Linked DNA regions of Homo sapiens: region 1 is linked to region 2. Evidence: fine-mapped expression QTL. A gene starts in region 2. The other region holds a variant in brackets. All regions are shown on one strand. Distances are from middle to middle. Region 1 has its middle 36 kb from the start of TRAT1. Region 2 holds the start of TRAT1 (T cell receptor associated transmembrane adaptor 1).

Region 1 (5,392 bases), 36 kb before region 2:
ATTTCTCATAGTTACAGATAAAATATCCTAAATTTTAATGGAGAGGAAACAATTTAATGCATATGTGAGAATTTTTCATATTAATCTTACAGGAAACTGGCTTTTCTTTCATCTCTACAAATGTTCTGAGTGGTTTGGAGCAGATTCGGTACATGGAAAAGTATTAGGTTGGTGCAAAAGTAATTGTGGTCTTTCTATTACTTTCTTTTTTTTTTTTTTGAGATGGAGTCTTGCTCTGTTACCCAGGTTGGAGTGCAGTGGCGCAGTCTTAACTCACTACAACCTCTGCCTCCCAGGTTCAAGTGATTCTCCTGCCTCAGCCTCCTGAGTAGCTGCGATTACAGGCGTGTGCCACCATGTCTGGCTAATTTTTGTATTTTTAGTAGAGACGGGGTTTCACCATGTTGGTCAGGCTGGTCTCGAACTCCTGACCTCGTGATCCGCCTGCCTCGGTCCCCCAAAGTGCTGGGATTATAGGTGTGAGCCACCGCGCCTGGCCTGTCCATTACTTTTAATGGCAAAGACCACAGTTACTTTTGCACCAACGTAATACCAGTGAATTTCATTCTGCCAACCCCACTTCACCCCAAATGACATCATTTTAGTACTCCTTACTACCTCTTTAAAAGAAGTTAGGTGAAAAATGAAATCAAGATATTTTGGGGTATATTAGTTAGATTAGGTCCACCTGTGAATAACAGAAATCTCAAAACAACAATGGCTTAAGTAAAACAGAAATTTATCTCTCACATTAAAGAAGGCTGGAGATAGGTGGTCTAAGGCTGGGATGCTGTTCCATGTGTTAGGAATTTAGCTCTTTTTATCCTATTTCTCTGTCATCTTCAGCCCATGCAGTCTATCCTGTGATCAAATGTTGCTATTCAGACTTCAGCCACCACATCTTTATTCCAGCTACAGGTAATGAGGAGCCAAAGAAAGGCAACACAAGCTACAGAGGGAACATTGTTCCAGCAGCCGTGCATCTGGTATTAAAGTGAAAAATGAGCCAAAGTTAAACAAGCAAGAGAGACTTTATTCAAGACTATTGCAATACAGGAGAGAGGTTGAACTCAACTCAGCCTCTGAGTTCAGGGTGAAACAAAAGGCTGGAGAGTTTTTAAGAGCTGGGGTGGGGGTAACGGTAGGCCACCTGTGCTTAATTCTGACCTATCTCCATGACGGAAGGTAGGCTTTTGCCCTCCCACAGACTGGAGGATAAAGGCATTATCTTCCTTCAGAAATTACATTTCAAAGAGATGGTTTTCAGGTTTTTGAGAGAGACATTTCTGGGGGTAATCAAATAGGTAAAAGCTTTTTGAGGAGACATACACACTTGAAAGGGAGCCAAAAAAGAATTTGCAATGATGAGTTTGTTTTTTAAGTAAATAGGAAAACGGACAGGAAGAAATCTGTCTGAAGTTTAGTTAACTTGAGAAGTTAATGCTGTCTTGATCACCAGTTAAAAGTAAAGATTCTGTACTTAGGAAAAATGGGAGAATGGAAATTGGAGAAAAACTGATTTGCCCCAGTTTTCTTAAGTTTTTTTTCTTTCTCAATACTTTGTAGAAAGACTAAAAAGTAGAGTATTTAATTTAAAAATTAATTTTTCAAATGGTAGAATTTTTGGGTACCACTACTGCTTGTGTGGTTAAAAAAAAAAAGACAAAATAGAACAGCAAAGGATGTGGGAGACTCTTCCATTGTTCTAATAATTCATCCTGTAAAGTTAACTTGGGTTTGTAAAATAGAGGCATTGTTAACTGACCTCTACCTATGTGAGCCATTTTCCCTTCCTTCTATCAACATACTGAATCCTGACCCAGCACAATAAACACCATGGCCAGTAGACTATTCTTATAACCTCCTGAGTCTCTCCCACCACCAAAACTGTGTTTCCCAGGAGTGCATGGTGTTTGTTCCTGCACTTGATTATTTTGGCTGTACTTGTAATTACATAAGATAATTGTTATGTGTCCTAATGAAATATGGGTGTGGAGGGAACTTTTCCTATGATAGTTAAGTTCACTGATTCCAAAGAATCAATAAACCGAATTGCTAAAAAAAAATTACTGACAATTTAGGTAAGGGTGAAATAACTCTTAAAGTCTCGGAAGAAAAACCAAAAATCTTGAGGGATGCTGCAGTTAGATTTCATTAGAAATGTTTTCAAGTTCTCATTTCACTTAAAAACAAAACCAAAACTGGGACCATAGACAGTGTTTTATGGACAATGATATTTATACAAGAAAAATGACATGAAACTTCAATCATAGACCTACTCAAAGTAAGGCCTTGGCCCTATATCAAAAGTTAATGACTAAATGTTTATACGTTTTAAATTTAAATGTTTATGGTACTTTAAAAATTTATTCCTCACTTGACCCAATTTTTCCAGTTAATTTACCAAGTATGTTCTTAATCAATGCAGATGGAAGAAATAAACCTACTTAATTCTCAAGTGTTATGATGGTTACTGACATCTTTAAAGACTTGTCCATTACATCAGAGGTGGCCAAGAACGCTATTGATTGAGATTCTTTTTCCATTCTCTTCCATTTTGGTCTAAATAACAAATGTTTCCCTGATTCCAAATGAGATAACTTTCATCCCCTACAGAAAAAATTAGACAAAAGGGGGCACAAAATTATGTTTTAGCTTCAATATCGGGATTTATTTATTTTTGTTTTTGTAAGTTAGTTTTGGGTTCTGTCTCTTATGGAGAGTGAATATGAGGTCACTGCAGGGAAAACCTCTTTTTTTATACACAAAACTGAAAAAGAAAAGCTAAGTCATTTTAAAGCAAGTGGCATTAATAAAATACTTTCCTGTAAAAACACTTTAATATGAAAATATTGTGGTAGATGTAAGTCTTAGTGTTTATTGAAAGCAACAGCCTGTCATTTAAGGGGATTTATTGTTGGATTTTTCCTAAATTAGAAGGGCTGTTAGTGTGTACAAGCTGCCATAAATCGTCATTATTTTTAAGAATTGTTTTCAATTTGTTTTAGTTAGCCTCTTTTGATTTTAAATAACAGAAATGCAAGCACAGCACTTAAAATAAAGAGATTACTATTATTAAATAGATAGGATGCAGGGATAATTAAGAAATAGGGCCCAAGAGCACTTAAACCCAACTCTAGAAATCAGCTATTCTACAGAGCAAGTTCTACACTTAGACTACTTATATTCAAATCCTGAGTCTACAGTTTATTTGTGTGACATCAGGCAAGTTACTTTTTATCAGTCTTGGTTTCTTCATCTTTAAGGTTAGCATCTATCTTTTAGGGTGTTATGTGATTAAATTAAGTATGCAGGTAAGCACTTATCA[C/T]AGTGTCTTACACTTAGCAAGTTCTCAATAAATATGACTTATCATTGTCATGATTGTTATATGATTAGTCTGATTAGTTATGGAGCTTTGAACTCCAGTCTCTGCCATCTTACTCTAAGTTTCTTCCCCTTGTAATTGTACCCTGCTTTTCAAAGCCCCAATTCTATCTATTGTTTTTTTTTGTTGTTGTTGTTCTGATCACTATCCAGTCTCTTGTATCTAGGTTGGTTCAAAGATGAATCTACTGTCTTCTTCCTATAATGTATTCCAACTAATACATGAAGAAGGAATAACAGGACTAGCATATCATTTTGCAAGCTCCTAATGAAACAAATGATCTTGCCAGGCGTCAGCCAACTATGGCCCCTAGGCTACATCTGGCCTGCTTGATTTTGTAAAAAAAGTTTTATTGAAACTGAAAAAAAGGAGAATCCACTGTCGTGATTCAGGTACCCACCCTTGATGCATGACTTCCTAGGTAGTAGAAGCTGTGAGTGGGTGCAGAAGAGCCCTTCAGAAGAGGTTAAAGAATGGCAAATAGCATTTAGAAGTGTACCTCTGTTGAATTTATATTCTGTCTTGTTCCTTTCTGTCAATGCTCTGTTTTTCTGTGTTAATATAAATTGTCTGTTCTGTTAATCAAATGACAAAACCTCAGAGGAAGATTTAAAGCATATGTCTAAACTAATCACCCTCCCTTTACTCTGCTAGAAATAAGCCATTTAATACCAAAAGGAAATGAGTTATCCCTCCTATTTTTGAGATTTGAGTTCAACTTATCGGACCTTTAAAACATTGTCAGTGAAAATCTCAAGACTTGGAATTCATCTGTTTTCTAGTCATGATTTTTCTTTTTCTTTTCCTCCGTACATATTTTTTTTCCAGTTGAAATGTTAAGGCTTATAATGATACAGGCTGAGGATCCATAATCTGAAAATCCAAAATCCAAAATGGTCCAAAGTGGAAAACTTTTTGAGTGCCATGACTCCACAAGTGGAAAATTCCACACCTGACATTATGTGATGAATGCACAAAATTATTTACAAATATTACATAAATAGCCCTCAAGCTATGTGTATATAAACATAAATGAATTTTCTGTCTAGGCTTAAGTCGCATCCCTAAGATACTTCACTACATATGAATAAATATTCCAAAATCTAAAAATCAGAAACACTTCTGTTTCCAAATACAGGATATTCATCCTGTATTCCTTCTGGAACATAAGCCCTGAAAACTGCCAAAGGTGATGTATATATAGTCCCTAATAATTACATGATGATCAGTAATTCATAGCTTACTCACATTTCAAATGATCCTGCTTAGCTTATCGAATTATACTAAATTACACTAAAAATATACTATAGAATTACAGTAAAGTGGTAAGAATGCCTTGGATTTCTGCTTCTGACAAAGATAGAATAACATCCTAGATTTACCCTACTACCTGAACATACTCTGCCAGCTGAAACAACTAAACTCCAGACAAAGTAGATGAAACAGTGTTACTTGACATACTGTTTCAGGCAATGAAGGACAAAGGTCGGTCCCTGAAAGATGGGAAACAAATGAGGTAAACCTTCCTATCATCCTATCTTATTGCCTGGAGAAAAGTTTCAGGCCTTGGAGCAGGTAGAGGAAACCTAGGTAAAAGACCATTGATCTCTTGAATTGAGGAGATGGAGCTCCAGGTCAAGAGAAGTCAAAAAGGCAGAATACTGGAGAGAAGAGAGCTGCGTGTAGAGAAAACTCTGGAGATATGTGAAGAGTCGCCGTCAAGTATTCAGTTAAGTACTGGTCAGTGCACGCAAGTGACAAAACTACCCGAACTTGGGGAAAAACCCACCTGAAAATAATAAAGAAAACAGTGCCCATGACTCACACATGGCTGGGAATAGTGTCGATTATCAACAGCCAAAGTGGAAAACGTCCTAATTCATGAACGGTGGTACTAAGTACTAACGAGGATCTTTCCTCAGTAATAAACTAAATTTAACTTAGTCTAAAAGCTGCTCTGGCTTAATCTAACAAAATTTAAAAGCAAGATTCTAAATGATCAAATTG
Region 2 (5,360 bases):
TGTTTTCATACGTAGTTTTACTTAACTAGAAATAATTATTCTTTTGTGTGTGTTCAAATTTATTTTATTTTTTATTTTACCTATCTAAATATAAAAAATACTATCATCTGATTCTCTTCCTTCATGTGAAATTTTGTTTTGTTTTGACTTTTAATACCTGTGAGGTTTTTAAATACTTTGTCTTTGCATCTCTTCTGTGAAATTGTAAAAGTTCTCAACTGTTGATGTAGGAGCTCCTGTATTAAACCCAAAGGGGAAGTCTGAACTACAAAATGCGATGGAGGAAATGTTACCATATCTGTTCTAAATTTAGAATTAATTAGTCCTGAAAATAGAGGAATGTCATATTCACCGTCTTTGGTCTTCCCATGCTTTCTGAGTTCCCCATCATCATCAGCTCATGGAATTATACTTAGTAATGCTATGTTCATTTCTTGCAGGGCACTAGAAAAATTGGGACACTTGTTTTTGTTCTTTGCTAAAGTATGAACTGGGAAAGATAAGGAGAGGTATGAAAATTGTATGCCAGCTTATGGTCCCTGTGTGATTTATGTAATCAATTGGTTTTAAGATCCATCAAACAGAACAATGGAAGCCAATTCACAGAAATTATAATATATGCAATCTTTACTCCATAGCTGGCCTATACAAATTGGTATTAAAAGTACAAAGCATACTAATTAAGCAAAAGAGGTCATCAGACTATCACAAATGATAGCTATAAACAGTTTAAAAATCCATGCAAAAATGTTCAACCTCATTATAATCAAAGTAATGCATATTGAACAATGAGTTAGCATGTTGTGCTTATGAGATTAGTGACGATTTTTTAAAGGAGATCAGCCTGTGAAGGAGAAGCACTGCTAGAATGAGAGGGAATTGGCATCACTCTTGGAAAAGCAATTTGGCAATAATGAGACTTAAAATGCCATAATCTCTTAATAATTTCAGTTCTAGAAAGTTTTCTGAAAAAATAACCCTTACTACAGAAAAAGCTATAGAGTTGTTCATCTTTCTGTCATGTAAAAATATTTTTAAAAACTGTATACAACAGGGCTGGGCGCAGTGGCTCACGCCTGTAATCTCAGCACTTTGGGAGGCCAAGGCGGGCGGATCATGAGGTCAAGAGATCGAGACCATCCTGGCCAACATAATGAAACCCTGTCTCTATTAGAAATACAAAAATTAGCCAGGCGTGGTGGCACGCGCCTGTAGTCCCAGATACTCAGGAGGTTGAGGCAGGAGAATCGCTTGAACCTGGGAGGCAGAGGTTGCAGTGAGCCAAGATTGCGCCACTGCACTCCTGCCTGGCAACAAAGAGAGACTCTGTCTCAAAAAAAAACAAACAAAAAAAACTGTATACAACATAAATGTTCAGCAATAAACAAATGACTAAACTATAACTGAATAGATATCATTTTTGTGCATTCATTTAAAATGATTATGCAGAAGTTATATTAAAAGGGACATGGTTATGTTAGTGAAAAAAGCTGGATATATTATGTACATTATTATTTCAGTTATGAAAAGCAAACTATATAGAATGTATATAAATAAAATTTGAAAGGAAATAAAACATATTTTGTGTTTTTAAGGTGATGGAAAATACGTATGAATTTTTAATATATATATTTCACAGTTCTCCCACATTACATAATATGCATGTTTCCTTTTGCAACAAAAAGATGTTTATTTAATAAATTAAAAGTACATAAAATAATACAGGAGGAATGAACCATCAACATGGATTCATAACAGTGAGTCAATATGGATCCAACCCTTTCACAACAGCGAGTGAATATGGATCTAACCCTCATGATTAATCTCACAGCAATTGAATTTTCACTGGCCTTTTCAAAATTGTTGTCTCTCTGAATGTTGACAATTGCATTGCTTTCTAGAAAATACTATAGTGCCTAATCTCTGAGGAATTAGAATTACACTTATCCTGTTTAATAGCTAAACTAAACTAAAGAGGAATACACATAGTCAACAAAAGCTTCTTTAAAAATAACAAGTACTTCACATGGCATAATTATCAGTGAACACTTACTGAACAGCTGTAATTAGATTTACGTTCTAAAATGCTGTCCACATTTTTCTTTCAAAAGAAAAATGTCAACTTATACTCATTAACATGTTTCAAAATATATTTTAATTACACTAAAAGTTATCCAACATTTTTAAAATAACTACTTTCTAAATACTAAGGGTCTTCTCGTTAGGACTTAGAAATTAAGTGAATTTTTAGACACACAAATGGAACAAAAAGTTTAAAATGCCACTTACCTGACATGCTTCTTTTTTTCAGAGAAATCTTTATCTAGCCATAAGACAAATATATGGATTAAAAATCCTCCTACAAACTTTTTTCCTAGGTGATGTTGCTCTGTTATGTTAAAAGCAGCATGACAGTAAAACTTATCTTTATCTGTGCCTCGGATTCTTTTCTCTTCTGTTTCTTAAAATCTTTTGTGTGTACTTTGTTTCAGTTACAAACAGGAAATGTGGTGAAGGAGTTGTCTTGAGTTTTGATCTGAAAACAGTCGACTTAAATTGTGTAACGTGGGAAGAAAAATCCCACACACCTTTGTAATCTGACATTTGAATTTTTATCAATACCTGAGTCTAATTGAAAAATAAATAAATAAAGGTAGGAATTAAACCAGGAGGGATCTTCCTATCTCTGGAGAGAATCCAGTCATCTCTTCACAAGTAAATTCACATGGAAACAAAATAAGATACACTAAACTGATGAGTAAATAGTAAGCAACCCGTGGGTGTGCTCAGCTGTTGTATTTTCTTGAGCCATGATGGAGGACAGGGAGTTAATATTTTTTGAGCACTTAGTATGTATCAGTTGCCTTCTATACCTCATCTTAATGCGAGGCTAGATGCCTGCCTTATTTCCTGACAATCCTCACCTTATCAGTATGAGTTTCTCTGTCCAATCTAGAGCCACCTGACAACAAGCTCCTGTTCTCAACCACCATCCCAGAATCTTAATAGCAGCAGTTCTTACATGTTGGTGTACATAAGTATGCTATAAGATGCTAGTTTAAAATCCTGGGCCCGTCTAAATTAGACTATTTAGGGTGAAGCACTAGAATCTGCATTTTAACAAGCAGATTTTCTGAGTGCATTTTAAATTACATATATTGTATATGATAAGATATTTTAATATAGATGTTCTGGACAATGCTTTTGGAAACTCATATAAGGAATAGAATCTATATTATTCATTATTAAAATTTCATAACTAGAATTAAGCACACCGGCACATCGTAAGTCTCAATAATTGAGACTTACTCTCAGTGATTGAACAAACAAAACCATGGGTGTCTTGTGCTTTCTTTGTCTTCCATTATAGAAAATAACTCCCTAGTAAGCAAAATACAGTGCATCTTATCCTTTGGACAAAGCTGGCTAAACACTAACACATTTTTCCACTTCAATCACTCCCCCCCAAAATATTTTTTGGTGAATCGTTGACTCAGAGGCTGTAAAACTGAAAGAGACCTTGGAGATTCTCTGGTCTAAGCTTCTTTAAAAGGGATTTTTAAAGTATGTTCCATAGAACACTCGGCCTTTAAGAAACGCAGAAGACAAATGTTTCTTCAACAAATATCTTTGGAAAAAATATATAGCTTTATTTTTACCTCCGTAGATGCATATTAAAGGCTTAGGTAAGTCCTGCGAAAAGGAAACCCAAATAATATTTTTATCAGAGTTTTTCTAAACTTATTTGGCCAGAGGACTCTTTGTTCAGCCGCTAACCATTAGCAGAGTGACAGGTTTTATGAAGCAGGCCTGGATGCTGACAGAACAAGACTTCAGGGAACAGCAGCCTCAGGTTCATGTAGGGATCAGAGGACAACAAAGAATCAGAAGGTTTCATCTTAGAATTAGATGGAACGTAGGGAGGAAGACTGCTGAAAAGTTGAATCCCAGACATTCAGGAAGATTCGGGCACCTGATAAATCAGTTTGAGAGGAGAGGGCCTAGTTATGGCCTTGAGGAGTTGAGCTTTGGTCCTGAAAGAGGGTAACTGGTAAGAAAAGTAGAAGTCCTAGGCTCAAGAAAGGACTACAGAGGTTACCTAAGCAAGACCTTGGAATATGGGCAAAGTAGATGCCCACAACTCGAGCTTACAGAGGACATTGGAAAGAGAAAGGGTTTCAGGACTGGAAATTTTGGTGCTAGCATTCCTTTGTTAGAACAAAATTATCGCAGAGGATGGGGAAAGAAGGAAGGAAGATGCTTTCATCCCAGCTGATCCATAAAGTGCAATTCCAGAAAAAACGGTGTTTAATTATTATTGGCTGTGAATGGAGAGAAGGTCAACTCAGCAAGAATGACTCAGGCAAAAATGCAGGAACTCTGTGGTTTGCTCAGAAGTATCTCTCAGAGCAGCCCAACAGGAAGAGAGACCCAAAGCAAACCCACCTGTTGGGAGAGCAGCTGTCTAAGGGCTTCCCTGCCTCAAGGGTATGACTTTACCCATACAGCTGCAGGAAGCTGGGGAAGGCAAGAGCAGAAGAGACATTAGGAAGGATATGTCCTGCTTCAGAAAGAGCCTGAAGTACCTGTTGAGTGATTACCTTATGGCTTAAAAGGGTTAATGTACCTCCTATGCATGATTGACATCTCTAAATGGTAAAAACTTAGGCTAATAAATCTGAACCACTTCACAGTTTCTAATTATTACAATATTTTTGAAAAGTGATCTTCATTACAATGTTCCATTCCATAGATTTAAATAATCTACGGAGATGTAACAAGATTGTCCAAGGTCACACAGGAAGTCCGTGCCTGCACATTAGTTAGCTCCATAGATGTTTGAAATTTGCCAGGAAAAAAAAAATAGCTTTTCATTAAATATAGATGGCTGAGCACATGGAAACATTATCAGAATATAAAAAAGCATATGGATATTTATTTGTTATAAAATATATTAGAAAGTGCATTCAGAGATTTGAATGATGGCTTCATGAGCCATGTTTAAATCATAAATAAACATGAGGCCTCTGTAGTACTTTTTAATGAGATGGGTTATCAAAATGGAATTTCAAAGAAAGCTAGACTAAGCAGAAATGTCTCGACAAGCTTAAAGCAGTTAGAGATGTTGTAGGAAATTTTGGGGGGAGGTTTTGATGGGCACCTGCCAAGAAATAAAAATATTAAGGCCAACAAAATTGATGTTTTGTTGCCAAAAGAAAATGAAAAACATGTCAAAATGGCAGCTGCCATTCAGAGTTTCAGAAAAATGGGTCAGAGTGTAGAAAGAGGCCCAGTTTTTCAAACTTCTTTTTTGATGATCATCTATCATTTTTATAATTAATTTTCATCACTATAATGTA

The links. PIP is the estimated chance that this variant, and not a neighbour inherited with it, causes the effect.
Region 1: its variant is the best candidate, but not a certain one, in a credible set for the expression of TRAT1 in whole blood (INTERVAL, PIP 0.75).

What each region holds. Positions count from the first base shown.
Region 1 is chr3:108,855,693-108,861,084 of GRCh38, reverse strand. No RefSeq gene overlaps it. Among named protein-coding and RNA genes, the nearest start is that of TRAT1, 36 kb to the right of the region's middle. The variant C/T (reference allele first, on the strand shown) is at 3,329.
Region 2 is chr3:108,819,864-108,825,223 of GRCh38, reverse strand. TRAT1 (T cell receptor associated transmembrane adaptor 1) reads right to left here and starts at 2,438. Exons shown (of 6, transcript NM_016388.4): 1 at 2,290-2,438. The coding sequence starts at 2,296.